2 separate regions of the Homo sapiens genome follow, and region 1 is linked to region 2. Evidence: fine-mapped expression QTL. A gene starts in region 2. The other region holds a variant in brackets. All regions are shown on one strand. Distances are from middle to middle. Region 1 has its middle 33 kb from the start of LINC03034. Region 2 holds the start of LINC02352 (long intergenic non-protein coding RNA 2352).

What was found.
Region 1: its variant is fine-mapped to the expression of LINC02352 in whole blood (INTERVAL, PIP above 0.99).

Annotation. Positions count from the first base shown.
Region 1 is chr15:31,262,151-31,264,650 of GRCh38, reverse strand. No RefSeq gene overlaps it. Among named protein-coding and RNA genes, the nearest start is that of LINC03034, 33 kb to the right of the region's middle. The variant C/G (reference allele first, on the strand shown) is at 1,053.
Region 2 is chr15:31,214,539-31,217,038 of GRCh38, reverse strand. It overlaps LINC02352 (long intergenic non-protein coding RNA 2352), which reads right to left and starts at 1,018. Exons shown (of 2, transcript NR_135834.1): 1 at 1,002-1,018. LOC124903454 (a long non-coding RNA gene) reads right to left here and starts at 725. Exons shown (of 2, transcript XR_007064556.1): 1 at 1-725.

The DNA.
Region 1 (2,500 bases), 48 kb before region 2:
CTCTCCAGGGCTCCTCCTCTGGATCCTAAGCCCATAGCTGAGTTTAGGCCTCAGCCTGCTAAGTGCACGTTTCCTGAAGCCCACCCATAGCAGGAGACACAAGAAGGGGTGAGGGAGGGCTGCCGGGCAGCCTAGGTGCCACTCGGATGGCAGGGGTGTTGGGGCCGGTCCCCTGCCGCCCCCTGGAGCTGGCAGTCCATTTCAGAAGCAGAAACAGGAAGTCCTTCCTGACTGCCAAGCAGGGCAGGGCAGGTGCTCAGTGTGGCCCAGCTGCTCAGAGCAGGCTGGTGAGGCCCTGGCAGCAGGCACAGCAGGGCCCCGACAGCAGGATCCCCAGCCGAAGACACTCTCTGGGCCACAGGACAGGGAGCCGGCCACAGGATCAGCCCACAGTTCGTGGCTGGGAGCTGGGCATGGGAACGAGAAGAAAGACCAGCTCAGGAACCGGCAACCACAGTGGGTTTCGGTTCAACCAGCGTTTGCGGAACCCTGGCTTTGTGCCAGGCAGAACACTCAGCACTGGAAAGGCGCCAAGGGGAAGGTGGCGCAGGCCTGCCCATCTCAGTTTCTGCTCTGAGCAGACGGGTCACCCAGGAAAGGGCCACTGCAGAAACACGTGGAGATCAGACAAGACACAGTGGGGCTGGTCCCCGAAGAAGCAGTCCCCAGATGTTGGCTGGGTGGGGAGGGGAGTGTGGGGTTCGAATCAGCCAGGGAGGGAACAGGGCGAGAGCAGGACAGGCCGGGCCTGGCTAGCATGTGGCTGGCACACAGCTGAGGGCAAGACAGATGGCTGGGAGCAGGCACTGTGCTCAGTGGAACCTTTTCAGGACCCAGGCTGGGGAGAGACAAGCTGAGAGCAGAGGTTCGGGAAGATGGCAGGGTGGCGGCGGCAGCATTGCAGAGGTGGGATTGCCCTGGCTTTCAGGGGGGCATCACATCAGGGCCTTTGAGCTGAGCTGCAGAGTCTAAGTGGCATAGGGAATTTCCCAGCTCAAGTCAAGAGAGCTAGGACATAGTTAAAACCTGGAAAGGACGGGCAGGTAGAAGTC[C/G]AATTCCAGGTTCAGCCTCATTGGGTAAATGACGCATCGAAAACTATGCACGTGCTGTGGGATAAATTTCCAGAGTCTGCATGCTTAGGCCAGATTCTCTAGAGCAAGAGAGGGCCTGCCAAAAGGTCAGTGCATGATTCAGGTCTTTTGCAAGTCACCAATTCTAGCTGACTTTACACTGAAAGAGGAACTTGAGACAAGGAAGCCACGCTGGAGCTCCAGAGAGCCCTGGGGAGGGTGCAGCAGAATCACCTCAAACTCTCTCTGCGTTGGCTTGGAGCTCCTTCCTCTGCAGACAGATGCCCTGTGCTCCCAGACCCTGCCATGGGAAATGACTGTCCCAAATCCCCCCAAGTTTATGTCTCGGTAAAGTGAGCTAGGATCTCCTGGGGCCAGTTCTGCACTCCTGAGGAGGGGGCTTTGGTTGGTCAAGTGCACATCCCTGCGCTAATCCAGCGTAGCTGGGGCAAAGTCACCTCATCCGGATCAGAAAGATCAGACCCCAGGAAAGTGCTGAGAGGCGCTGAAGGTGTGGGGCTCATATACATGCACCCCAGAACCTGATTTACTATGCCCAGAGAAGATGGCATATGGCCGTGTGTTTGCCTTCCAGAATCTCAATGCAGCCTTGTTTGCATGTGATATGTGTGACATGGATGAACAGCAACAGATTTAGGGCCAGATAGGCTTCTTGATTTTTGTCGGATGTCTACAAGCCTGGCCTGTAGTGTGACCCCTTCAGGTGTTCAGCTTGGACAGTAAACAGTCATCAAGGGCTTGCCTGCCACACCAGGCTGTACCCTGAGGGTACAATGTAAAATAAGGTCCCTGTCCATAAAGGATTACCCAGGATCCAGGAGGAACTGGTGATAGGTCACTGTTATGTGCACTAGAAAGAGAGCTTAGATATTAACTTGCCCCTGGTTGTTTTTGCGTGTGTGTATGTGTGTGTGTGTGTGTGTCTGTGTGTGTGTGTATATTGAAGAACTTTTTTCCCCAAGCAAAATCCTACCTGAAACTCTTAACACGCCAGAGACATCCCCAAAGACAGGGGTGACTCCTCCCCTGGAGTAATTCCTGAACAAATCTTTGGAACCAGTTTGAAAGCTAAACGGGTCTTCACACCCCCAATGCTGGGTTTTTCCTCCTCCCCCAGGCTGCCTCGGCCTCCTTCCTCTCCACAGCACACCTCTTCTGAGTCCCAGGGTGAGCCTCTCTGGGATCCACAAAGACCGTGGGTGCCAGGAGGCAGAGTCTGGAAATCAGAAATGCCAGCTTTGGGCCATACATGGAGAGGCTGGGGATGAGCTGGTGAAGATGCCCCGTGGTGCTGACTCAGGGCTCCTGCAGCTCCCACCTCCAGACCCTCCTCTGCCTGGACTCCTGTGGGCTGCCCCTCAGACCACAGCCAGCCCATGATTCCCCACTGGACTGACCCACCTAAGTCC
Region 2 (2,500 bases):
GTACACACGCACCCATTAACAATGGCTGCCTGGAAGTAGGGGTAAGAAGGAAGTGTGAGTATCCATGTCCCTTTGTGATAGATTTATTTGTGAATTACTGTAACTTCCTACATCAGGCACTGACACTTGTGGACAGGTGGGTAGGTAATAGGTAGTAGCTATACACAGGGGTGAACAAGGACCAAGCAGGCAAAGCCCCTGCCCTGGCACAGGGGACTCTTCCAGGTCTAACTCAGGCAGTGTAAGAACGCCCCAAGGGGCCTGGGATGCCCAGGAGCAGGGAAAGGGACTGAGGACCGGCGCTTCCCAGTGCCAGGCCACGGCACTCAGCATTAGCCACCCTGCTCCTGGAGGTTCTGGGGCCAGATGTCCCCCCAAGTACGCACGGTCATTCAGTGAACAAGTGCTCTCATCTGGAAGCGCACACGCCTCCGGCGGGCTGAACTGTGGAGAGGGTCCAGGCTCCACAGCGAACCGCCTCCCAGCAACCGGGCTCGCCCATCGGAGGCAGAGGTCTGGCAGGAAGGGCTGGGAAGGGCGGGGTCGGTGCGGCCTGACCCCTACACCCCTTAGGCCTGGAGGCGGATGTGCACTTCGCCCATTTCAACATTTCCTCCCCGGCTGGCCTCGGCCCAGGAAAGAGGCAGGGGTGCGGTTTCCCTCCGCCTCTCCCTCAGCCCTTCTCTCCCGCACCCCTCCTCCTCCTCCCACCGCTCCTTCCTCTCCTCCTTTCCCGCACCCCTCCTTTCTTTCTCGCTCATCTCTCTGCCCTCCTTGCCCCCTTCTTCTGCCCCTCCCCCTCCGCCTCCCCCTTCCCCTCCGCCTCCCCCTCCCCCTCCCCGGGTCCTCTCCCTCCCGTTCCCCCGCCTTGCCCTCCTCCTCCTCCTCGCGGCCCCCGCCCCGGAAACCTGGCTCGCCCCGGGAGGCTGAGGTGGGGCGCGCGGGGTGGTTCAGGGGCCCATCCTCTCCGCCTCCCGCGCGCCCCGCCCGACGGCTCGCACCTGCTTGGCGGCGGCCGCTGGATTCTCGGCCTCGGGCTGAGGAGGCAGGAGGGAAAGTGGGTCAGCGCGGGGCCGCGGCAGGGCTGCTGTTGTGCTTGGAAAGGGGCCCGGGGTGCCGGAGGCCTCTCCCAGGCGCGGCGGCAGGAGCGCCCGCGCGTGACACTCCAGGCACAAAGGGGCCGGGCCGCCGCCTGCACTGGGGCTCGGGCGTGCGGGGAGAGGCTGTCGGGCGCCGCACGCATGGACTGTGTTCCCCTTCCCGGCCACGGCTCGGGGCGGCGGGGGCCCGGGGCTCTCCTGTCCCCGAGCGATGTCCCCAAGGCCTAACACCGCGAGCCGGAGCTAGCAGGCGCCCACCACGCCCGCTCTTCGTTCGCCCCACCCGGGCTAGGTCTGGGCGGCTCCCTCCTCCGGACGCTGTCCCCGCCGCCCCGCCCTGCCCCCTGGTGTCAGCCACAGGCCTCAGCAGCCTGGCGTCCTCCTCCTGGGAGCATTTTTCTGACACCTCTGGGGGACCCGGTCCCCTGACCCCTACGCTCATGCGGTCTGCCCAGGTCTTGGGGGGGCGTTGGCTCTGTTTCCGGGAAACCTCCGAGGCTGATACCTGGCAGCAGCCCTGCGGAGGACTGCCCAGCCACTCACCTCCCGACCACCGTGCACCCCAGCAGCTCTGGGACGCCGGGCTCTGTGGGTGGGCTGGGTCGGGCTGCAGACATGGGTCACTGTCCTAGAGCAAGGACTGGCTGCGAGAGCAAGGAGGGGACCAGGCCTTTGAGATGTCAGTCCCCAAGCTCCCCTCTGCTGTCCCCTGCACAGGAGCAGAAGGGCATGGCCTGAGGGTCAGGGTGCCTCAGCTGGCTTCCTGCACTGCCGCACACCTTGTCCTGTGCCCCCCGCCCCCCGCGTGCTAGGACCTCACCGTCCTAACATGCCCAGAACTCTGGCTACTGCTGGAGCTGGGCCTCCTTCCTGGAGAGCCTATCCCCTGGGTCACCTGATGAATGTTTCACCCTGTTCCAGAAGCTTTCCAAATCTCTCGCCAGAATGCCTCTCCAGCCCTTGGCTCCTGTTGCACAATCTGCATCCTTCTGTGCCCACGCCTGGTGCAGGCCTCTTCTCAGGCTCTGGGAGGCTGGCCTCTGTGAACGCTGGGCTGAGCCAGCTTCTGACCCAGGAGGGGCCCAGGGCTGCAACATTCTCACCCTGCTCCAGGTTTGAGAAGGTATTTCCATGGGAAGCTTGTGTCAAATGCGTACCCTTCCTGTGTGTCCTCACGTGTGTGCAGCAGTAACTGCACAAGGCTATAGTCGGCACTGCTGAGCCTGGGGTAGCCCCTGAGCTTGTCTGAACCCAGCTGAGTGGAGCTCGATTGACAGGCAAGTGTTTGGTGTCCCCCTGGCTTGTAGAAGGGCCGATGTTAGCTCCTGAGACCACCATGTGTCTACTGCGAAAGGACAGCTGGACACCTGCAAGCCTCCTACAGATAGGGGAAGGAGGGA